2 linked regions of the Homo sapiens genome follow. The protein of the gene in region 1 purifies or fractionates together with the protein of each later gene. This does not show direct contact. Each region holds a gene or a part of one and is shown on either strand. Other genes may lie near its edges.

The links.
Region 2: the proteins of MICALL1 (region 1) and EHD4 purify together in Homo sapiens (affinity purification with mass spectrometry; 2 studies listed by BioGRID and IntAct, with this or other methods). This does not show direct contact.

The regions. Positions count from the first base shown.
Region 1 is NC_000022.11:37,900,131-37,912,822, forward strand, and holds the start of MICALL1 (MICAL-like protein 1), read left to right. Parts: upstream 1-6,166; 5' UTR 6,167-6,292; coding exon 6,293-6,438; intron 6,439-6,700; exon of another isoform or gene 6,701-7,348; intron 7,349-11,821; coding exon 11,822-11,870; intron 11,871-12,220; coding exon 12,221-12,362; intron 12,363-12,692. UniProt on the Homo sapiens protein: Lipid-binding protein with higher affinity for phosphatidic acid, a lipid enriched in recycling endosome membranes. On endosome membranes, acts as a downstream effector of Rab proteins recruiting cytosolic proteins to regulate membrane tubulation.
Region 2 is NC_000015.10:41,909,912-41,922,351, reverse strand, and holds part of EHD4 (EH domain-containing protein 4), read left to right. Parts: intron 1-610; exon of another isoform or gene 611-935; intron 936-2,729; coding exon 2,730-3,142; intron 3,143-12,440. UniProt on the Homo sapiens protein: ATP- and membrane-binding protein that probably controls membrane reorganization/tubulation upon ATP hydrolysis. Plays a role in early endosomal transport.

The sequences.
Region 1 (12,692 bases):
CTCAGCCTCCCAAGTAGCTGGGATTACAGGTATGAGCCACCACACCAGGCCTCTACTCTCTATTTCTATGAGATCAACTTTTTTAGATTCCATGGGTGAAAAAAATAATTTTTTTCTTTTTTGAGACGGAGTCTTAAAATGTTTCTCAGCACACTGGATCCAAAGTAAGGATGATGAGATTCTATGTTGGGAAAACATTTAAACCTTGGCCTTTTTTTTTTTTCGAGATGGAGTTTCGCTCTTGTTGCCCAGGATGGAGTGCCATGGCGCATCTCAGCTCACTGTAACCTCCACCTCCCGGGTTCAAGCGATTCTCCTGCCTCAACCTCCTGAGTAGCTGGGATTACAGGCATTTGCAACCATGCCTGGCTAATTTTGCATTTTTAATAGAGATGGGATTTCACCATGTTGGCCAGGCTGGTCTCGAACTCCTGACCTCAGGTGATCTGCCCACCTCGGCCTCCCAAACTGCTGGGATTACAAGGTGTAAGCCACCGTGCCGGCCTGTTTTTATTTTTTTTGTTGTTGTTTTGTTTTGTTTTTGAGACGGAGTTTCACTCTATCACCAAGGCTGGAGTGCAGTGGCACCATCTTGACTCACTGCAACGTCTCCCTTCTGAGTTCGAGCAATTCTCCTGCCTCAGCCTCCAGAGTAGCTGGGCTTACAGGCGCCCGCCACCACCCCTGGCTAATTTTTTTTTTATTTTATTTTTTGAGATGGAGTCTTGCTCTGTCGCCCAGGCTGGAGTGCAGTGGCACGATCTTGGCGCACTGCAAGCTCTGCCTCCCGGGTTCACGCCATTCTCCTGCCTCAGCCTTCTGAGTAGCTGGGACTACAGGCGCCCGCCACCATGCTCGGCCAATTTTTGTATTTGTTTTAGTAGAGACGGGGTTTAACCATGTTAGCCAGGATGGTCTCAATCTCCTGACCTCATGATCTGCCCACCTCGGCCTCCCAAAGTGCTGGGATTACAGGCATGAGCCACCACGTCTGGCCTAATTTTTGTATTTTTAGCAGAGATGGGGTTTCACCATGTTGGCCAGGCTGGTCTTGAACTCCTGACCTCAAATGATCTGCCCGCCTCAGCCTCCCAAAGTGCTGGGATTACAGGCGTGAGCCACTGCACCCGGCCAAGTTCTTGTTTTTAATCTTGCTTTTGTACCTCCCTCCTGCAAAGCCATGCTACAAAGCCTGTTGGCTGGAAGAATGGTGTGTGGAGAAACACGACCGTCTGCCTCAAACTGTCAAGGGCTTCCTTTGGGTTCCCGTGGTTCCTCTGGTTTCCTTTTCCCCGCCTTTATTAGGCTACAGGCAGAATTGTTTATGGAACTGTTTCCTTCCCTGGCCTAGCCAGTCCTTCCCTGCCAGGATCCTGCCCCATGGCTAGACACCTGCAGCTGTTACCTGGGAAGAAATCAGAAAGGATTCAGCCAGATGCAGGGGCTTGTGCATATAACTTCAGCATTTTGCGAGGCCAAAGCAGGTGGATTGCTTGAGTCCAGGAGTTCAAGATCAGCCTGGGCAACATAGTGAGACTCCCGTCTCTACAAAAAATAAACAAAATTATCTGGGTGTGGTGGTGCATGCCTGTTAGTGCCAACTGCTCGGGAAGCTGAGGTGGGAGGATCGCTTGACTCCAGGAGGTGGAGGCTGCAGTGAGCCGTGATTGTGCCAGTGCACCCAGCCTGGGAGACAAAGTGAAACCCTGTCTCAAAAAAAGAGAGAAAGGATTCAAACTCTACCTATACTGACAGCTCTCACCTGTTTGCATTCAGCTTGCTTCCCTGGGAGTTAGGTGTTCTTCAGCCTAAATGATGTTACCATCTCAAAGAGGTGTTCCCTGGCTATGCTATCTGTCCCCATCATTCTCTGTCACAGCACCAGTCACCACCTGAGGTTCTCCTTGTTTTTGTTTTGTTTTGTTTTGAGACAGGGTCTCACTCTGTTGCCCAGACTGGAGGACAATGGCACGATCTTGGCTCACTGCAACCTCCGCCTCCCCAGGCTCAAGTGATTCTCCTGTCTCAGCCTCCCGAGTAGCTGGAATTACAGGCACACACCACACCCAGCTAATTTTTGTATTTTTAGTAGAGATGGGGTTTCACCATGTTGACCAGGCTGGTTTCAAACTACTGACCTCAAATGATCCACCCGCCTCAGCCTCCCAAAGTGCTGGGATTACAGGCGTGAGCCACTGCGCCCAGCCTGTTTTTTGTTTTTTGTGTTTTTTGAGACAGAGTCTCACTTTGTCGCCCAGACTGGAGGGCAGTGGCGCAGTGTCAGTTCACTGCAACCTCTCCTCCCTGGTGCAAGCAATTCTCCTGCCTCAGCCTCCTGAGTAGCTGGGATTACAGGTGTGTGCCACCACACCTGGCTAATTTTTGTATTTTTAGTAAAGACGGATTTTCACCATGTGGGCCAGGCTGGTCTTGAATTCCTGACCTCAAGTGATCCACCTGCTTCAGCCTCCCGAAGTGCTGGGATTACAGGGTGTGCCACTGTGCCCGGCCTCCTTGTTGTTTACTTGTTTACAGCTCCTGGCCCCCAACAGGTGCTCAGTAAATATTGTTGAATCCATGCTTGACTATAAATGTGTGAACAAGGTGTGGAAGGCTGTTTCACACCGACAACTGCAGCTACTTCTTAGGAGGGGACTAGAGTTGAAGGAGACAGTCAAACTGGAACTTTAGATTTATTTTTAAATTTTTGATAAGAATGATGTATTCAGGCTGGGCATGGTGGCTCATGCCTGTAATCCCAGCACTTTGGGAGGCTGAGGTGGGCACATCACTTAAACTCAGGAGTTTGAGATCAGCCTGGCCAACATGGCGAAACTGTGTCTCTACTAAAAATACAAAAATTAGCTGAGCTTGGTGGCCCATGCCTATAATCCCAGCTACTAGGGAGGCTGAGGCAGGAGAATCACTTGAACCTGGGAGATGAAAGTTGCAGTGAACCGAGATCGTGCCACTGCACTCCAGCCTGGGCGAGAGAGACTCGTCTCAAAAAAAGACAGGGTCTCCCTATATTGCCCAGGCTGGTTTAGTCTTGAACTCCTGGCCTTGGCTCCCAAAGTGTTGGGATTACAGGCATGAGCCACCGTGCCTGGCCCCATTTCTTAATTGATAGTTAAAAATAAAACAAAACAGCACTGAATTAAGGGCCCAAGTCTCTCAATTCTAATCCCGAAATTATAGCATGATTTTGGGCAAGTGCCCTACTCACCTATCTCTGTGGCTTCTGATCTCACCTGTAAACACACAGACCCACCTTCCACCTGAACCCTGGATTTACAGTCTGCACAGCATTTTCTCATCCATTATCTCACCTTGTTACCCACAACCCTGGGATTCAGGCAAAGCAAGTATTATCATCCTCATTTTATAGGGTAAGAAATTGGGGTTCATGAGGGTGAGTTGTCTGGCCTGCGGTCACACACTGTGGTCGTACAGGTCCTTACTTCGAAACATTGTGAGCTGACTCAGATAATGAGTTTATAAAGCCCACAAATGGCTAATGGGGGTGACCAGGCTGTGCTGTGTAAGCTATTAGTATGGCAACAGGATCAGATATGGAGCTGTCTTCAGGGACCTAAAGGGAGCCCTTTAGGCTAGTGAGGACAGGGCTATAATCCCTCCTGGTTTCTTTTGTTTGTTTTTGGTTTTTTGTTTTTTAAATGGAATCTCACTCTGTTGCCCAGGCTGGAGTGCAGTGGTGCGATCTCAGCTCACTGCGTCCTCCACCTCCCGGGTTCAAGCCATTCTCCTGCTGGGATTACAGGTGTGTGCCACCACGCCCAGCTAATTTTTTGTATTTTTAGTAGAGATGAGGTTTCACCGTGTTAGCCAGGCTGGTCTCGATCTCCTGACCTCGTGATCTGCCTGCCTTGGCCTCCCAAAGTGCTGGGATTACAGGCGTGAGCCAAAAAAACCCACCATCTTTGAGATGGAGTCTCGCTGTGTCCCCCAGGTTGGAGTACAGTGGCGTGATCTTGGCTCACTGCAACCTCCGCCTCCCAGGTTCAAGCGATTGTCCTGCCTCAGCCTCTCGAGTAGCTGGGACTATAGGCACGTGCCACCACGCCTGGCTAATTTTTTTATTTTTAGTAGACACGGGCTTTCACCATCTTAGCCAGGCTGGTCTTGAACTCCTGACCTCATGATCCGCCCACCTTGGCCTCCCAAAGTGCTGGGATTACAGTGAGCCACCGCGCCTGGCCCAATTTTTTGTATTTTTAGTACAGACGGGGTTTCACTATGTTGGCCAGGCTGTTCTCAAGCTCTTGACCTCAGGTGATCCACCTGCCTCGGCCTCCCAAAATGCTGGGATTACAGGTATGAGCCATGGTGCCCAACCCCGCCCCCCTTAGGTTTTAATGAGAGTCCTGGGTGGTCTTTGAAGGCCTAGGTGGATGCTGGTGTCAGGATCCTGAACCCAAGTCCCTGATTTCATAAAAAGCATCCGGAATCCTGCTTTCCTGCCACTGTTATCCCACAGGGGACAGGGCAGGAGTTGGCAGCTCAGGGCTGGTGAGAAGTCCAGAGGGCTAGCCAGGCACTCTGGCCATGCTCTTCCTAGGTGGCCTGAGAGTCCATATACTGAGCCAAGATGGCGGCCTTCCAGTTGCAGGAGTGTTAGGCCAGCCCAGATTGGCAAGCTGGGTTCTCCAGGCCCTGGGCCAGTATTCTGGACTGGGACTCAGTGGACTTTGAAGAGGTAGAATTCCCTAAGTCGGCCTCTCTCCTTGATAATTTACCCAGAATGGCCCAGATGACAATCTGGGTACAAAATATTTCAGTCCATTTCATCATGTTTACCAAGTACCAGGAGTCAATAGAATTTATGAGTGATAACTAAAGGGTAAGGCACTTTACATCTTAATCCTCTCAGCCACCTTGTAAAGCAGGTATTATCTCCATTTTTAAGTCGTGGAAACTGAGGTCCAGGGAGGCACAAGATCACATGACTAAGGGAGTGGGGAAAGCCAGGATTGGAGATTGGGTTAATAGGGCTCCAAAATGCCTGATCTTTCCACTCCCCTGAGTGCTCAGGGGTGATGAAGATGACTAAGACCCTGTTCCTTCCCTTGGGAGGGAGCGAAATACCCACTCCAGCTAACTATTGCATGGGTCAGGGTGACATCACCACCTCTGCAGCAGATGGAGGCTGATTCATCTGTGGGAGAGTCAGGAGGGGCCTCTGCGGAAGGGTCGGCTGGCTGGAAGGGTTGGCTGGCTGGAAGGGTCGGTTGGCTGGCGGGGGTTTTGAAGACGGCAAAGATAGAGAATGAGCCTTGGGGAGGTTCCAGGGCCAGATACAAACTGCCTGTATGCCTCCCAGGCAGGGGCCTCCTTGGCCTAGGTCCTTCCCATAGGAACTCAAACCACCACCACACTAACCATGGCTGAGGGGACCCGGCAGGCCGCAGTGGGGAGGGACGAGATCCCTGAGCTTACACAGGGGCTGAGGGGAGCTCAGTGAATCACCTAGGGGACACCTGGACCAAAGGTGGCGGAGGGGCGCATGGGTCTCCCTGCCAAGCTATGGGGGAGGGGATGGTGGACATGACAACTTCCAGCTCAGCGGTGCTTTAGGGTGGGGAGCCGGGATGAGGGAAGCTGGTGGCTATCCGGGGGGGGGTGCTCTGAGGTCTGCAGGGGAACTGCCTCCCCAAAGTTTCAAGCTAGGGGTGGAAGGGGGGATTTGCGGTCATTAGGAGCGGGAAGGAGGCCGGATGGGAGCACGAGGTGTCCCGCCTCCAAAGGGTGGAGGGCTCCCGGTGGGTGGCGCGGCGGCGGCCGCGGCGGTGAAGTCATCGTGGGGAGTGGTCCGCTTGCGGCGGGTGCGGGGGCTTCGCGGGCACCCAGTGGAGCAGCGGGAGCCCGGCGCCGTCGAGGGGCGGGCGATGGGGCGCCGGCCCGTCTTGGTAGGGGTGGGCTCCGCACTGGAGGCGGAGCTGCTGCTGGGTGGGGCGCGCCTCCGGCGCGGACGGAGGCGGCGGGACGCCCGCTCCCACGACCGGCCCACAATGAGGCGAGCGGGCAGCGCGGAGTAGGCGGCGGCCGGCCGGGCCGGGCCACGCGGCGGCGCTGCTCGGGCAGGTTAGGGCAGGGCCGCGGGGCGCCCGAGCGAGGACACCGCGGCCCCGCCTCCGCCCCTCCCCTCGCCTGCCGGTCGGCGCCCGAGCTCGGAGCCGCAGCCGCAGCCGGAAACCGGGCCCGCGCGGCGGCCGCCGTCCCGGCCAAGCCGGGGCCCCGAAGCCAGAGCCGGAGCCGGGCGGGCCGCGGGGTCATGGCTGGGCCGCGGGGCGCGCTGCTGGCCTGGTGCCGCCGCCAGTGCGAGGGCTACCGCGGCGTGGAGATCCGCGACCTGAGCAGCTCCTTCCGGGACGGCCTGGCCTTCTGCGCCATCCTGCACCGGCACCGGCCCGACCTGCTGTGAGTGCGGGGCCCCGGGCGAGCGGGCGGCGCGGGGCGGGCTGGGGCCGCGACCGCCGCCCCCCCTCAGTAACACGAAGCCCGGGCGGTGACAGGCGCCGCCCCCGGACACGGAGACGCCGACCCCCCCGACGGCCCCGGACGCCGGGCGGGTCCCTGAGACCCCGGCCCAGGGCGCCCCTCCCCCGCCCGGCCGCCCTGACCCCGCCCGTGGGATCCCGAACTCTCCCCCGAGGCTGGTCCCTCCGCGGGGACACTGGCCCCGCCCACAAAGCGCTGATTTCCGCCGAGGATCGCTGAACCCCTAAGCCCTTGACCTCTTTGAAGGGGTGTTGAGCCCTCTTTGGGGGCCCTGGGCCTCTCCTACCCTAAACTCTTCTCCACGGGCTCGCCGGGCCTCCCCTCTCCCCCGAGGCTTCCCACTCGGGGTGGCCCCTTGCTCCGGGTGTGCAGGTGAACCCCCACTTCTCTGACCCCCAAATAGGAGCTTGTCTCCGGACAGTAGCACAGTTCCCGGCACAGAGGAGACCTCGGCTAACAGGTGTTGGATGAATGGATGTACAGACCCTGTGCTTTCCCCACGCCCCCCAACTTAGGACGCAGCCCTGCCTCCCGGGTGTGTGCTCGATGGCCCTGCAGCCCTCCTCAGTGGGGCACGCAGGTGGGGCGCGCAAGAGGAGTCACAGGCCGGCAATGTTGGGAAGACTCCTAGGATCCGATTGATAGACACCAACCGGGTGCTGCAGGTTGTGAAATGGCCCCTTCCTGCCCAGAGCTGCCCAATGAGGTTCTCATGGGAAAATGCATTCAGACTCCCCGGAACAGTTGACTTGGAGCCTCTGTCTTTGCTCTCTCTGCCTTGAGCCCTGGAACCTCTCCTCCTTTCGTCCCTTCATTCCTAAAACACTGGGTGAGTTTATCTGGTGCCATTCCTTGCACTTCAGGTCTCACCTGTGAATCAGGGAGGAGAGTTCTGGTCCCTACCCCTTTCGCATGCAGCCCTCTTGCCAGGGCTCCCCCAGCCTGGCAGATGGAGGCTTTCTGTGCCTGTTCCACCTCCAGATTTGCACTGTCCGAGGGCAGCATGTGGGAAGGCTTCTAAGGGATTGCCTCAGGATTCCATGATGCAGGTGCACCTGGTTTACCTGTATGTACCCTGCAGTACCGTGTCTGTGGGTGGTGGCTTGGGCCCTGGAGGAGAGGGTTTTGGGGCTGTGGATACAGAAGGGAACAAGATGAGGTGGTCATGTAGGTGGGCCCCTGCCCGCTGTGGGGCATGTGACACCCATACTAATGGAAGCACAAGGTTGATGCCTGGTTGCCCAGGAGCAGGGGGTAGAAGGATGGAGGAAAAGGGCACCAGGGTTAGACCTGGGCATTGGAAGGGAGGGCCCAAGGGGTCTTCTGTTTTGTTTGAGGGGCAGGAGTGAGGCAGGAAGCAGGGACAAACCCAGTGTGGGAGGGGACTTGGGTGTGAAGTGAAGCCATTTGGTGGGCCTGAGCCTGGTGGCATCAAAGTAAATAAAGGCCGCCTGGTTTGTGTTTAGCTTCTCCATGTCTTAGGCGCATGGCCTTGGGTCCTCATGGGCTCTCTCCAGGCATCAGTGTCCTCATCTGTGAGGTGGGATTGATAATGTGACACAGCTCACAGAAATGTGAGGATTGCATGAGATAACAAGCATTCATTTAACATTAGTTACTGTGAGTAACTAATGTTACTTTTTTTTTTTTTAATGTTTTTTATTTTTTTGAGATGGGGTCTCACTCTGTCACCCAGGCTGGAGTGCAGTGGCACAGTCATGGCTCACTGCAGCCCCCACCTCCCGGGCTCAAGCAATCCTCCCACCTCAACCTCCCTAGTAGCTGGGACCACAGGCACACGCCACCACGCCTGTCTAATTTGTTTGTATTTGTAGAGATGGGTTTTCACCATGTTGCCCAGGCTGGTCTTGAACTCTTGAGCTCAAGTAATCTGCCTACCTCAGCCTCCCAAAATGCTGGGATTACAGGCATGAGCCACCATGCCTGGCCCAATAACAATGTTTGATTTCTTCATTTATTCAACCAGTATTTGTAGAGTCATATTGCTCTGTGCTGGACACTGTACCTGGTAATGGAAGTACCAATCGACAAAACAGGCAACCCTACACGCTCTCCCACACCTGTAGGGGAAACGTGTATAAACGATGATGGCAATTCCATGTACCCTATCAGAGGGCTGGGGGTGGGAGACCTCCTAGGGAGAATATAGTCTTCAAGGAGATGGCAGGAGCCAGGTGAGGGCTGCTGGGTGGACGTTCTGGCATGGGACCCCATCTGAGCAAAGGCAAGGGGCGGGAGGTGTGTGCAAAGCTGGAGGCTGTGTAGCTGAGTGGGGAGCACAAGGTAGCGAGTTGGGAGATGCAGTTGGGACAGATGGCTGACAGCTGCTTTTGCTGGCTAAGGAGCATGGATAGGGGCCTCAGGGAACCATGCAGGGTTTTTTTTGTTTTTGTTTTTGTTTTTTTGAGATGGAGGCCTGTCACCCAGGCTGGAGTGCAGTGGCGTGATCTCGGCTCACCACAACCTCTGCCTCCCGGATTCAAGCGATTCTCCTGCCTCAGCCTCCCAAGTAGCTGGGATTACAGGCACGCACCACCATGCCTGGCTAATTTTTGTAGTTTTTAGTAGAGATGGGGTTTCACCATGTTGGCCAGGCTGGTCTCGAACTCCTGACCTCAGGTGATCCGCCTGCCTCGGCCTCCCAAAGTGCTGGGATTACAGGCGTGAGCCACCATGCCTGGCCGAGCCACGTAGGTTTTTTTTTTTGAGACGGAGTCTCGCTCTGTCAGCCAAGCTGGAGTGCAGTGGCATGATCTCTGCTCACTGCAAGCTCCACCTCTTGGGTTCACGCCATTCTCCTGCCTTAGCCTCCCGAGTAGCTGGGACTACAGGTGCCCGCCACCATGCCTGGCTAATTTGTTGTATTTTTAGCAGAGACGGGGTTTCACTGTGTTAGTCAGGATGGTCTCAATCTCCTGACCTCGTGATCCACCTGCCTTGGCCTCCCAAAGTGCTGGGATTATAGGTGTGAGCCACCGCGCCTGGCCAACCACGTAGGTTTTAAGCAAGGGAGGGATGTGGCTGGAAAAAATGTGCAGGGGAGGGTGGCTCCGCTTCTGAGATCCAGAATCATGTCCAGGCATTCATTTGCAATATTGCCAGCGCATTGCACAGGAGAGAAGCTGAGGCCCAGGTCCCACATAATGTGTAGGGAAGTCCTCAGTGATGGGTTGGGAGGATCTCCGTGAGAATAGGAGTGGCCTAGAGTGAGGGCAAGAATCATCTCCTAAATTGGTTCAGGCTTCTGGGGCTGTGGGCCCTGCCTGGGTGAACCCAGTGTTGGCCCAGGGCTCTGCTGGGACGAGGGTTGTGGGGGCTGGGCCATCCCTCCGCACCACCCGAAATCCAGACATGCTTAAGCTCCTTTGAGGGCGTGGACCATGTGGGTTTCATTTCTGTGTCCTTCATCTTCCCCAGAGCCAAGTAGAACTCCGCAGGCCTCTGAAGACTCTCAGAAAATATATGTGTTACCAAAACACAGATGTTAATTAGGGACAGAGATGGGGGTGGAAGAAAACCTGCAGGATCCTGAAGGTTTTTTACAGTTTTCACACTGTTTTCAACATTGATTCATTCAACAAACATTTACGGAGCATCTTCGAAATTTGGGGAACTGTGTAGGGAGTTGGGGGCACAGAGTAGCTAGAATGTGACCCCAGCCTTCTTGGAACACTTCTGGGGTGACCGAAATAAACGGCTGAGACAAGTTGCTTTTGTCTCATTTGGTCTTGGAAAAAGCCTCTGTTGGGGGCTGGGTACCATGGTGTTTTCCTCGCCCTGTTGCAGTGTCCTGAACCGGACCGGGAGACAGAGGTTTCGAGAGGTGAAACACCTTGCTAAGGTCGCACTCTGAGGCAGTGGCAGAAAAGGGGAGCTAGGGAGGCAGCCCAGGGGAGAAGGAAGTGGCCTGGTCAGAGTGGCAAAAAGGGAGCTGGTGCCCAGACATAGTCACCTTGCCTCTCCCCGTCCACCCAGCCCTGGGGCACCAGACCCCTTCCAAGGTCCTCAAGCAACTCTTTCCTGCCCAGGGTTCACAGTCCCTGGCCCCTGCCTGGAAAAGTGTTGGGGGCAGGAGGAGGGGGCTGTGCTTACCTGGCTCCCTCATATCTGCGAGGCCTGCCCTTTACCAAGCTGGGACTCCACCAGCTTGGGAGGTGGTATTAGTGCTTTTCCTGATTTGCACATGGGACAATGAATGCTGGAAGGACTGCTGATCCCCCCAACCCCATGGTCACATGGGAATTCAGCCCTCAGAGGCGGCGTGGCCTGCTCTTGCCTCTGCCCACCCATCTCCGGCAGTCAGGGCTGCAGTTTTCAGCCATAGAAGGGCAAGGCTGCATGCGGATGCACCCAGGAGGCTGCCCGGCGGGAAGACTGAGCTGTCTCTGCTGGTTTCAGCGGCCTGGAGTGGGGAGGGAGGAGGGGGATAAATAAAGCCTGCAGGCCAGCCAGCTGTCCCGTGCTGGGGCCCCCAGACAGGCCCTGCCACCTCTCACCTTTCCTAGTTTAGAAAATCCCTCACTGCTTCCCCAATGGAGGCTGCCCCAGGAGTGGCCCAGTGGGGCCAACCAGCTGTTCTATGCCAGCAGCTCCGGAGTATGTACATTTCCACTCTGGTTCAAACTTGTTCTTCTATTCACGGCCCCATTAAGAAAAACATTCATCTGCAGGCTGGACCGGGTTGGGATGCAGCAAGTTGGTGTGGCTACTCCGAGTGTGTGACACACCTGCAGGGGCCTGTGAGCAGTGGGAGGGCCAGACATGTGGATTCCCAGGGCTGGTGGCTTCCTTTCTCCAGGCCTCAGTGTCCTCATCTATAAAATGAGATCAATTCTTGCCAAACAGAGTTGCTGTGAAAAGAAAGTAAATGAGACAGAGGAGCCCAGCACTGCGCCCTGGGGGAGGTCACATGCGGGTCTTAGTTATGTCTTTGCCACGGACTCCAGGGGTGGCTTCCTGCAGAGAGGCAAAGGATCTTAAGCTTGAAAGCCTGGGCTTGAGCCTCACCCCTTCCCAGTGATTTCCTAGCCTCTGCTTGGATGCCTCCAGGGCCCGTGATCTCATGCCCTGCCCTGCCCTGGCAGCTCCAGCTCTAGCAGCGAATGTTTGCTGCCTCAGTTTCCCCCTTAGTAATCCACAGACTCCCCCCCAGCAACCCTGCTGAGGTTGATGCTGGCTGGGACAAGGTCTTCTCTGTTCAGCTCCTTTCTGACTCTGACCCCGCCCCTATTTCCCAGTCACCTCCCCTCTTGACCAACCCTCCTCCCTTTGCCTCTTGCAGAGATTTTGATTCGCTTTCCAAGGACAATGTCTTCGAGAATAACCGTTTGGTAAGTTCCCGGACAGGTGGAAGCCCAAGAGGCTCTGTGTATGTGTGTGTGTGTGTGTGTGTGTTTGGTGGGGAGGGCAGGGGTCTTGCACGGTGGCTGCCCTTGTACACCGGCCCTGGCTGCACCTTTCCCCACCCTCTGCTTCCCACCAGCCTCCTCATGCATGGAGCACCAGGCTTCCCCTTTCTCCAGGCCATCCTGTGGTGCTTGGGTGGGATTAATACTGAGGGGAGCCCACAGTCACCCCATCCCACTGAAGGGAGCTGGGCCTAGGCTGAGGGGTCGCCCCCTAACGCCTCCTCCTCTTCCTGCTTCGGCTGCTCCCGCCCTTGTACCTGTCACCACCCCAGGCCTTTGAAGTGGCTGAGAAGGAGCTGGGGATCCCCGCTCTCCTGGACCCCAATGACATGGTCTCCATGAGCGTCCCTGACTGCCTCAGCATCATGACCTATGTGTCCCAGTATTACAACCACTTCTGCAGTCCTGGCCAAGGTGAGAGGGGGACTCAGCGTTTCACGGAGGCTGGCCCAGGGGGTGGCCCTGGGGATGTCTGATGCTTGCTACTGGTTTTCTGAGTTGTAAACAGGCTGCTGAGGAGTGTGTCATTCATTTACTTATTCATTAATTCACTCATTGAAATATTTCTTTTTTTTTTTGAGACAGAGTTTCGCTCTTTTTTTTTTTGAGATGGAGTCTTGCCCTGTCACCCAGGCTGGATTGCGATGGCACGATCTCGGCTCACTGCAACCTCCGCCTCCTGGGTTTAACCTCCTGCCTCAGACTCCCAAGTAGCTGGGATTACAGGCACCCGGCACCACGCCC
Region 2 (12,440 bases), on another chromosome or scaffold:
TATAGTGGTGGGTCCATGGCTCACTGCCTCAAACTCCTGGCCTCAAGTGATCTTCCTGCCTCAGCCTCCCAAGTAGCTGAGCCCACATGCATACGCCACCACACCCAGTTAATTTGTTTTTATTTTTTGTAGAGACAGGGTCTCACCATATTGCCAGGTGGTTTCAAACTCCTAGCCTCAAACAATCCTCCCGCCTCTGCCTCCCAGAGTGCTGGAATTACAGGCATTAGCCACCGTGCCCAGCCTTATCATCACTTTCAATAGCAAACCAAAGAAGCTGATTCTAACTAATTTAAGCAGAAAAGAAAATGTTTTGGAGAATTTGTCACAGGATTAATGGGAAAGTTGGAGAACTAGGCTTAGAAAAGAGTTAGGAAGCCGCCACCACCATGAGTAAATTCTTATTTTCACTGTGTCTTCGTGTCATTTCCCCAAGGTTCAGCACTCCTCTCTGGTGGAAGGAAGTGAATGTCTAACTCTAGATCACATGCTTATGCCCCAGCTTGCTAAGGAATGGGGCGAGGGACTCTCTGCCACACCTTCAGCCTCCACAACCCATAAAGGATACCTCCTGACCCAACAGGAAGGGTATTCAGCAAAAGCAACTCACATTCACTCCATGTGCACAGCGTTTTCTTTGATCTGTTTCTGAACCTTCAGATACCCCATCTGATCACTAGGAAGACCACGTGGGAGAGTGGTCAGGTCAGCATGGTGAATCAATCATCTCTCCTGGAAAAGCAAGTCCCCATGCAGGTCCATCTATGGGTGGCTCCAAAGCATCTTCCCGGCACCCAGCAAACAGCCAGTTCATTCATCCGCTGGGGACCTACAATCCTGTGAGCTAGGGCTGTCTGTGCACACGTCTGTCTCAAATGGCAGTAGCACTTAGTGTTACCCTAGGAGGCAGTTTGTTCTGGCCTTTCAGGGACAGAACTCAGAGTGAAACCTTGACTATGTGTGACCCTGTCAGTAGGTCTTTGATATTCCTCTGACCTAAACTGGCTGCTGACAGCAATGAAAATAAACTCTGGCCCACATTCCGAGAACTGCCTTTGTCTTCCTTATCCCCAAGGAGTCAGGGAGTGCCGCAGTGAGACAGAACAGAGAAATGAAAAGCATGAACTGGAAGTATCCACGCGTGTGGCGGCATAAACACCACACTCAGGACAGCGGCCTGCTAGTGGGGGGAAGGGCTCAGGGAGGGGTGCACAGGGGGCTTCAGCGTTACCAACTGTCTTGTTTTCTTTATGAAAAATGGACCTGAATCCAGTTTGCTTGTTCAGCTATTCCTCTAACACCTGTTCTTCAAATGCATGGAAACCTTAGTCCGCAGACCCTCTTTATTTTCACCTAATAGATTATTCACCTCAGATACTTTTTCCTCTGCCTTGGATTCACACCTTCTCCACCCCCACAGCCAACCAGGGTCTCACAATCGATGTTGACATTTTTGTATTTGTGCTATAGTCTGTATCCACAGATGGTTGAGTATTTTGTATTTTAACATTTTACATGAATGTTATCATGCTGTATATGTCCTTTTGAAACTAAGCTTTTACTCTTGTTCTTTTCTGGAGATTTACCTGTGTTGACAAGTGAAGATCTAGTTCCTTCTCACCACCGTATGGTATTTTGTTATCTAAAGAAACGATACTTGGTTTTAAAACATATCTGAAATAGCAAACAAAGCAAAGTGTCAACATTTGTTAAAATTATGTGGTAGGTACATCAGCATTCATTATATGACTTACAGATGTTTATGTATGTTTGAAAGTTTTCAAAATCTAAAAGAAGAGGGGAGACGACCCCTAGCATGGGGGTCAGGCAGGTGACATCTCAGCACTAGCTGGGCTGGATTGAGACTCTGCTTCTGCAACTAGTCAGACTGAGATTAAAAGTCAACTTTGTGGGCTTGGCCTCCTCTTGTTTGCTTTTCGTGGGAATCTGCCTCCCTGGGGAAAGGCCTGAGAGCCTTGACCTTGGGCTGAAGAGTGTTTATGCAGCTGCATGATTTGTGGAGGTGGTCAGAATAGGCTGGACAGAATTTGCTGTGGGCCAGGCCATTTTAAAAAAAGAAATTGGCAAGAGACCATTTTACACAATGGCTGTGATACGTAATGTTAAAAAAATATTCACAATATACCTGAGTTATAAATAGTCCAAAGATAAATATTGATCACAACACTGGCTGGGCCAACCTTTGACCTCCTCAGCACTCTACAAACTTGGGTTAATTGAAGGCGATGCCTCTTCTGTTATGCTTACTGGATACCCCCATGGGATGCCAGGTGGCCTCTGGTTCTCTTTCTTCTGTATTTGGGGCTTTCAGAAAAGTGAGACTTTTCAGAAGTAAGATCTTTTGACCCATGGCCTGTGTTTTTATAAAACCATTGATCAATTCTGCCATCAAGCAAAAGGTCTGTATTAGGTGAAATAAAACACTCATGAGGACTAAATGAAATCGCAGATATGAAAGTCAGCAATTCCCAAAGTGACCATGAGCCCCATTCTCTTTCCTCCCTCCTCCTGTGGAAGGGCTCCCCAGGTCCTTCCCACCCGGATTCATCCAGCCCGTGATTTTCATGTCACCAGGCCTCCACTGCCTCCAGGTTGGAGACAGGGCTCTCTCCCTGGCAGCTGCTGGAGAGCGAGACTGTTCCTGAGCCGCCCATTAAACGTGTCTCCTGCAGCAGTGGCTACACTGACGTGTCCTTCTCTCCACCCAGGCTATGACTTCTGCCAGGTCCTGCAGTGGTTTGCCGAGAGGGTGGACAGGATCATCCTGCTCTTTGACGCTCACAAGCTGGACATCTCAGATGAATTCTCAGAGGCCATCAAGGCCTTCCGGGGCCAGGACGACAAGATCCGTGTCGTGCTGAACAAGGCCGACCAAGTGGACACGCAGCAGCTGATGCGGGTCTACGGGGCCCTCATGTGGTCCCTAGGCAAGGTCATCAACACGCCCGAGGTACTGCGCGTCTACATTGGCTCCTTCTGGGCGCAGCCCCTGCAGAACACGGACAACCGCCGGCTCTTCGAGGCTGAGGCCCAGGACCTCTTTAGAGACATCCAGAGCCTCCCCCAGAAGGCAGCGGTGCGCAAGCTCAACGACCTCATCAAGCGAGCGAGGCTGGCCAAGGTAAGCCAGGAGATGCCTTGCACAGAGGCCAGGGGCTGGGACTCTGCTGTCTCCTCTCCAGAGGCAAGATGGGTGGGAGGAGGCTTCGTTCCAGAAGGCTTAAGGAATGAACATGCGCTAGGTTAAGAATACAGCCTCGAGGTCAGGTGGCCCTGCTGACACCCTAGCTCCTGGCTCTGCACTCCTGGGCAGATGACTAACCCTGTTCTCCAATCTGTACCATGGAGCTAATAAGAGCACTTCACAAGAACTTGGGGTGACAGTTGGTCAGTGTGACAGAGCACTTGGCATAGTGCCTGGTGCACAGGGAGGGGGATCAATCAGTGCACCCACTACATGGTAGCTGTTAGGATGTCAGGACGATAGGAATATAACCAACCAAACCTGAAAGAGGTGGCATTGGTGAGACCAACAGGATGCTGAGAGGCCACTGCTAGTCCCCGTGCACCAAAGGCCAGTGTTACCACCTGGATCCAGGGGAGCCCTGGGAAGAAGTATGGCTCAGTCTTACTCTTGGAGTGTGCTGGTTTTGGGTCACCCCCGCATCCTCATTCTGGGCTGCGGGCTGTTAGCCTGCATGCCTGGGCTCCTGGCTCGCCTGCCTCATAGCTGAGCCTTTCAGCAGCCCCAGGAGTGTGTGCCCAATGGGGCAGTGAGAGGTGACCTGCTGACATCCCTCAAGTGACAGAGTCAATTCATGTCTCCAAAGAGAGAAAAGCATATCCCTCCTCCAAGAGAAAATACAGAGAAAAAAATGGCTCTTTAAAAAATATGTGCATGTTTCATAAAATCATTGTCCTCTAATGCTGGAAGTGCCTTTAGAGTTTTATCTAGTCCTAGTGAAGTTCAAACCTGGCTGATCATCAGAAGCAACATACATTCCCAGGCCCTGCCCCAGAGCCTCGGATATAGGGGTGTGCGTGCACACATGGCCTTGTGTGAATATGCATGTGTGTAAACATGCGCGTGTGTGTGTGTGTGTGTGTGTGTGTAAAGCTCCCTGGGTGATTGGCTATGTGCCAGTCATGGTATGGATGCTGCCATGAGTGCTCTGGGAAGGGTGACTACGTGCCTGGCCAGGAGGCAGGGAGGGCTTCCCTGATGGGGACAGCCAAGGTGGGGACAATTCTTCCTCCTTCTTGCTGCTCATTAGCAGCCTGTCCTCGTGCCAGTGTGCTCACTGGGCAGCCTCTTGCCTGGGTGAAAACAAACACCGTCCTGGCTGCTGCTGCCCCTCACACAGGACCTCGATGTCCTGTGTCCCTCTCTGTCACGTGTGTCCCAGTGCGTGTGCATGCATTCCTCCCATATGGCTCAGCTAACCTGCAGTGGTGTGGTGCTTGTGTGAGTCATCCTTCTTTATCTGTTCTTCCTGGTCCAAGTGGCTTCCTTTCCAGAGCTACAAGCCATTTTTGCTCCAGTTCTGCAAGGCAGATGTGCTAACTAGTTTGTAAATCCACTTACGTGCAGCTCTCCTGAAATGATTTTGCCCTCGCCCTTGTCCTGGGCCTAATGCTTGGTAGCAGGAAGGCTGTTTTTCCACTCGGTGATCCCTTGGTTTGTGGTGTTTCCTTTCTCCAGCAGGTACAACTGAACAACCTTCAAGGTGTGTGACACCCCACATTAGTTTATAACCAAAGTTGGTGACTCATGTCATAGCCTTTGCAGATTTTGAGATTTTTTAAAACTATTTTTAAATGCTCATGGACATTCTTCATTTACCAGTTATTGGTAAATGAAGACCCAGTGACTGGAGATGCTGCTGTATTCAGTCATATAAATAAATAAGGAGGCCGGGCACGGTGGCTTACGCCTGTAATCCCAGCACTTTGGGAGTCGGAGGCGGGTGGATCACAAAGTCAGGAGTTCAAGGCCAGTCTGGCCAACATATTGAAACCCCGTCTCTACTAAAAATACAAAAATTAGCCAGGCATGGTGGCAGGCACCTGTAATCCCAGCTACTCAGGAGGCTGAGGCAGGAGAATCGCTTGAACCCAGGAGGTGGAGGTTGCAGTGAGCCAAGATCGTGCCACTGCACTCCAGCCTAGGCGACAGAGTGAGACTCTGTCTCAAATAAATAAATAAATAAATAAATAAATAAATAAATAAATAAGGAGCAGAAAGCTCGCTGGAAATGCCAAGCGCCTTAACCCGTAGAGCTTCCCTGCCATCCTTGAGCCTCGGGCCCTCTGAACGGGCCAGCGCGGCCTGGGTTTGGAGGCACAGAACGCTGCTCTGTATTCTGACACTGTGAATAATGAAAACCCTTGTGTGGATGCAGGGAGTGGGGGACGGTCAAACTTGCTGAGCTTACTTGCAGGAAAAAGGCTTGTGGTTTTTTTCTTCCTAAGAATAGTATCTGGCTTGTTCCTTTTCACAAAGGAAAATGTTTGAAGTATGGGTATTTGCAGCCGGAGCTTCTCAGTGCCAGTTGCTCGTGGGCAGTGCCATGCTGAGGAACGGGGACAGGAAGCGGGCTCACCCGGAGGAGAAGCCGGACTCAGCACGGCGGCCTTGGCCACTAACTCATGACATTGACCTCACGCCACCTGCAGTTTCATGTTCCACCGCTGAACTTGTTTCTGCTTAAATGGACAGATGCTTACCTGAGTTTTTCTTTTTGGAGTGTTTATATTTTCCAAAAGTGCTTTTATTTTGGTTTATTAACCTTTCTCTTGATCCAGTTTTCCTTTTTCACACCAACTGTTCCAAAGCTCTGTAGTCTGCATTATGTGTGTTTTTTTGTTTGATCCTGTTGACAACTACACAGTTGGGCATTTTTGTCCTCATTTCCCACCTGAGGGAACGGAAGCTCAGAAAGGTGAAGTTATGTCCCCGAGGCTTCACAGCCTGTAAGCTGCAAAGTATACGTTCAAACCTCGGTCAGTGTGACACCTCAGTCCAGAAAGCAGTCACCTGAAATCGGGAGTGAACAGCAGCTACAGTACCTCCTCCCTGTGTCCTTGTTTTCTGCACTGATCTGTTAATCTATTTATTCCATAAAAGTCTCCATCCACAGAAACCCTACAAAGTTTAGGTTTATCAAGCTGACACTTTGAAAACATGCAAAGGGTAAGTTTTCAGATGTCAGCTAAGAGATGTCAAGTCTGAGTTGGGTTGTGGAGTATGTTTATTTATAGAACACCATAATTAACCAGGATTCATGGCCCATCCAGATAAAGCAAGTGCGCCGTTTTAATCAAACTCGAAGTGTCATAAAGGTGACATTTTAATAATATGAAAAGTAGATAGATACTCTTCCCAAAGAGCTCTTGAAGTTTATTTCCCTTCTTTTTCTGTTTGTATATTTTTTTCACATCTCTGTATTTAAGGAACAGGGAAACTTTAGAGTGGGTTTTTGGTTAGCCTCAAAGATCACTTCTTACAATCTCAGTAGACATCCTTCTTGGAAGACGGCTCACACTCTGAGATGCCAATCAGGGTTCATTTCATGATTCTTTAAAGGAAGCTGTTTTGGGAAAGCCCAAAAAAGGGTTTGGAACATGTCATTTACTTTTATTCAGCTATAATTAAAATAGCCAAATTAAAGAAATTAGACTCATACAAATCCCAAACAATGCAAGTTCACTATCAGACCCCACCCTTTAGAAGCGTATTGCCCAAGAATAGGAAAGGCTGTCACCCATTTGGAGATCTTTGCTCAACAAAAATGAGGCAACATTTGAGGAAGAAACAAGTAAAACTGAGAAAGAAGAGGAGAGGTCAGTGATTTTCAAGGTTCACTGTAGTTCTGTGGAATTTAGCTTATTCTTTCAAATGTAGACTCTTCTCAGTCACATGTGATGTGCACAGCCTGGCTTTCTTGTCTATAGGCTGGGCACGGTGGCTCACACCTGTAATCCCAACACTTCAGGAAACCAAGGCGGGCAGATCACTTGAGGTCAGGAGTTCGAGACCAGCCTGGCTAACATGGTGAAACCCCGTCTCTACTAAATGTCATCAAAATGACAAAATGACAGTTTTTCTCTAGGCTAATAACTCAATGAGCAGAAAGGAAAGTCCTCCCTTTTAAATGTATATGAATGTATATGTAGTTCACACTTACACTCTGACACAGATCTCATTGTGTCCAATGATGTGTGTGTGTGTGTGTGTGTGTGTGTCTCCAAGACTGAGACACATGTACTAAAGAGTGATACTGGCCACATCTACTCTGGGCTTGGAGGGTAACTTCAGCAAGTGCTGGATACAAAAATTACAAAAAAAATTACAAAAAAATTACAAAAAATACAAAAATTAGCTGGGCGTGGAGGTGGGCGCCTGTAATCCTGGCTACTCAGGAGGCTGAGGCAGGAGAATCACTTGAACCCAAGAGTTGGAGGTTGCAGTCAACCAGGATCGTGCCACTGCACTCCAGCCTGGGCGACAAAGCAAGACTCCATTTCAAAAAAAAAAAAAAAAAATTCTCCTGTAAAGAAATGAGGCATTTTTTGTGCACCAAATGGATTCAGGCTAAAGCGTGTGAGAATCATGATATAATGGATCATGAAGATCCTGGTATTGCCTAGTCCTCGGCAGGGCTCTAAAAATAACTCAGTCAGCAGCCCTGAGCTACTGTGGATGTGTGTGTGTCAGTGCTTGAGCCCATAAATGGAAGCCTGTCTCTTTGAAGGTTGACCTCAGACAAGTGTGCAGCCCCCTCCGGTCCCCTTTAAGGCTGCACGGAATTACACGTGCCATTGGTGCCAGTTTTGATCTGAGCAGAATAACAAACCCTTGCTCAAGTCAGCTGCCCTTCTCTGCCTCTCACAGTCTCACACTCTTGTTACCCCATGGGTTCATCTTTTGGGTCTCAGGCTTATTAACTGAATTTTTTATATTATCATAAACCCACTTTATAAACGTGCTGATACCCTGGCTTTAAATACTCTATGCAGGTTTCCAGAGCTGGGCTTCCAGCCGCAGGTCTCCAGCAGGTTGCGTTAAGTTTGCAGATGAGCGTGGCACAGTGTGTCACCATGCCTTCCCAGCCCGCCTTCCCCAAACTACTGCCTGATCCTCACATTCCATGAAGCTTTTCATTCCAGCACTGGTCGCTTCCAGCATCCAGCACTCGCTGAAGTTACCCTCCAAGCCCAGAGTAGATGTGGCCAGTATCACTCTTTAGTACATGTGTCTCAGTCTTGGAGGCACACACACACACACACATCATTGGACACAATGAGATCTGTGTCAGAGTGTACGTGTGAACTACATATACATTCATATACATTTAAAAGGAAGGACTTTCCTTTCTGCTCATTGAGTTATTAGCCTAGAGAAAAATTGTCATTTTGTCATTTTGATCCATTTGATTTCCCCCAGTCATCCCCATTAGATGCCTTAGGGCTTCTGCAAGTTTACACAAGGCAAAGGATGACTTGAACAAGATACGAATGTTCAAAAGCCCCCAGGGGTCAATGTAAATTAAACACTTGGAACCCAAATTCATTATATTACTATTTAAATAGAGAGAGTTTATTAATTATTTGGTAAGGAGTAACCAGCCGGGAGCCCTCTCTCTCATTACTGTACCTCCAGCTGTTGGTCTTTGGCCATTAGTTGATAACAAGTTAACATTTGCTCCTCTTTCTAGTGAGCAGAGTGCATTCAAATACATGACCTCTTTTATTCTCATAATAACTCTGTGAGATGAATGTTGTTGTCATTTCTAATTTGTGGATGAGCACGCTGAGGTGGAGATGCCATGCCTGGCCCCAAGTTGCTCAGTGGGTAGGCAGTGGTCACGGGGCCTGAGCCTCATCTTCAAGCTCCAGGTCTAGTCCCCCTCTTCTCTTTCGTACTCCTCCTCTTCCCAATTAGTTTTCTCTCATTATAAAGGTCAGAAGACCCAAGTGTTTCCACCTCCTTCCCCAGGGACAACCACCAGGTCTGGCCCTGGGTCTGGCATGTATTTGGAGACACCTTTGACACATAATTGCAGGAGTGATCTCTGGAGGCTGACTGTGGATTTTAGTCATTCAAGCTGTCCCGTCTGTTTACCAGAAGACTTTAGAAAATGACAGGATGCCATCCTGCCAGCAGCTCGCAGTCTTCACCCGCATTCCCACGTGGTGTCCCGACGTTTGTGTGCCATCATTGTGTCCGTGTTTGATGTGTGGGGAAAGGGAGAATAAAGGACCCTTCCAAAGCCTCTCAGTGAATTAGGCACGAGCAGAAGTCAAACCTCAGATCAAAGTTTTCCAGACTCATTCTATGGGACACAGTTCATTTTGAATTCCAGATTTTGAACAACTTCAGTAAGATTATTAATGCATACCCACAGGGCATACCCACAGGGAGTCATTAGTTCTTTAGGGACAGGAACGAGGCACTTGGATGCTAGTGCCAGCTCTGTATCTACCAACTAGCTGTATGACCTTGAGTGAGTCACATGGATGTCCTGGAACCAGGAATTAAAGTAGATATTGGGGGGTCACTTCCAGATTCAGTATTTCATGATGCTAAGGATTATAATTTACCTTGTGACTTGATGAATTTTTTTTTCTTTTTTTGAGATGGATTCTTGCTGTGTCACCCAGGCTGGAGTGCAGTGGGGCAATCTCAGCTCACTGTGACCTCTGCCTCCCGGGTTCAAGCTATTCTCCTGCTTCAGCCTCCCGAGTAGCTGAGACTATAGGAGCACACCACCACACCCAGCTAATTTTTGTATTTTTAGTAGAGACAGGGTTTCACCACATTGGCCAGGCTAGTCTCAAACTCCTGACCTTAAGTGACCCACCTGCCTCAGCCTCCCAAAGTGCTGGGATTACAGGCATGAGCCATCGTGCCTGGCCAACTTGATGAACTTCTGAAAGCAGGTCTGTGCACAGAAGTTGGCCCTGGGTTATTGTTTAGGGCGCACCAGGAAGGGCAGGACGCGGGTGGACATGCAGAGGCAGCGTAACAGGAGACTTCCACAAACCTCGCTAACAGAACTTCCTAGAAGTGGAGGCTGGGACCGAGAGCAGCTGCAGTGTGAGCAGGTCACCTAAGGGTCATGACTCAGGTGGCACCAAGCTGGCGGAAGGAGGAGGGAGTTGAGACCTGGCACAAGATCAGCCCCAGGTTTATCAGGGCTGTGAAGGCCTAGTGTCGGGGCCACCTCGGTCATCAGCCAGCAAACACCATGAGGCCTGAGACGAGGGATCAGGTGACACTCAGTGGGTGAAGGGTGTGGCAGGTGCACATCAGCTGAGTTCAGTGCAGGTAAAGCAGGCCCTGGGCACCAGGGAGTGTTCAGGAACAGTGTGCCCAACCTCGGGGGGTGGGCGGCAGGGAGTGGGTGAGGAGTCAGCCAGATGAGCGGGAACTAAGCCCTCCCTGAGCTGGGGCCTGGCGGCTCAGAGGTACCTTACTAGTACGTGGTGAGGGCTCTTGGGAAGCCCTACAGAGGCCTAGGCAGCTGCTCCAGGGCTAGGCCCCAGAGCAGGGAAGGGGGTGGTCTCAATAAGAAGCCCTTGTGTTTGGGAGACTGAGCAGCTGTGGGGGCCTCCTGCTTCCCTTGGGGTGGCTCCAGGGTGGGGTGAGCCTGAGCACAGAAGAGAGAGGTATACATAGGTATACATAGAGAACATACTCATAGGCCCAATCCAGAATTTCCAGGAAGGTGGAGGCCAAGGAAATGATGCAAGGACAGCTGGTGAGCAGCTGGTTCTCCCTGATGGAACGTGGCAGCTCCTCCAGTCCAAGGGTGCTCCCTCAGCCCTGGCCCTCCCCAGCCCACCCACACCAAGCCAGGCATTCACTGTCGGAGGCAAAGGAGTTGGTATCTTACCACTTGCTCATCACAGCGGTTAAAGCCCAGGATTCTAAATAACGGATCCCAAACTTCGGGTTTCTCAAGTTATCTCTAAGAATCTTGTAAATCATTTCAATTGTCTTCATTTGAAAAATAAGTACATAAACAAGTTTGCTGGTGACAGAAAGGTTTAGCGTCATCTCTCCAAGACCATCCTCTCAGCGGTAGCCAGGCTGCACAGTGCATGCTTCTGTTAAACGACCCTTGTGCAGATGGGAAGTTGACATTGTCTGACCTCAGCATGTCAGACCTTGCATTAGGTACTTAGGTTAGCATCCAAATCCTCACAAAATGTTTTTGGCTGTGTCCAGCATGTGTCCACACACGGGCCCTCAGCTGAGCTATGGAATGTATCTGCTTACCCCCTTTATTTAATTTCAACTTCTACAAGATTACAGTAGAAGTCTGTTTTCTTTAATAGGATTTTCCGTTGCTACATAGTCATTTTCTTTTTGTAATCACCACTCTGTTTTTCATCCTTTCTTATTTTAGTTACTTACTTGACTTCACAATTACTCTGAAGTTCAAGATATACAAAGTAGCCGGGCATGGTGGTTCATGCCTGTAATCCCAGCACTTTGGGAGGCCAAGGTGGGTGGATCACCTGAGGTCAGGAGTTCGAGACCAGCCTGGCCAACATGGTGAAACCCCGTCTCTACTAAAAATACAAAAATTAGCCAGGCGTGGTGGTGCACACCTGTAATCCCAGCTACTCGGGAGGCTGAAGCAGGAAAATCGCTTGAACCAGGAGGTGGAGGTTGCAGTGAGCCAAGATCACGCTGTTCCACTCCAGCCTGGGCAACAGAGCGAGATTCCATCTCAAAAATATATATATACAAAGAGAACTTTTGTAGTGAACATTTCTTAATATCCTGAAGTTGGAAATCAGTAGAAGAGTGGAAATGTTGAGGCCAGATTCTCGCCCCTCCAATGACAGCCTGCTGGCTACCCCAAGCCCCAGTGATCAAGGTTTCTGGGGCTTCTGGGCTCCTCTCCCAGGGGGATCTTCTGCCATCCAGCCTGATCCCAGGCAGCTGGTCTTGTGCAGAATGACTTTAATTCCACCTGTAGAGATCTCAGAGTCTAAACCTCCCATAACAGGGGGGTTATGGGGATTCTCATCTCATCGTTCACTGGGTACAGATTTCCATGTTGATCAGCCATTGATGCCAGCCTCCAGTTTCATTTCCTGTTGCTCCCAGGCACCAGCCTGGTGAAACTTTCTCCTGGGTATTCTGGTTAATTGCCAGAACTAAGAGCTCTCCCACCCAGGCCCCACCCATACCACTCACTCCCTACAGACACCAGAATTGCCACTCAGAGGCACAACAGAACAGTAGCCGTAGAATTTCCCCAAGTCTGGCCACATTCCGGCCACCCTTGGACAGCTCCACTCCCCCTGGACCCTCCCCTCCTCCTGTCCTTGGGACCTGGTTTGTGTGGGTACCTGTTATGTGTTATGATGGAGTTAAGATGCAATCTTGTTTGTTCCTTCTC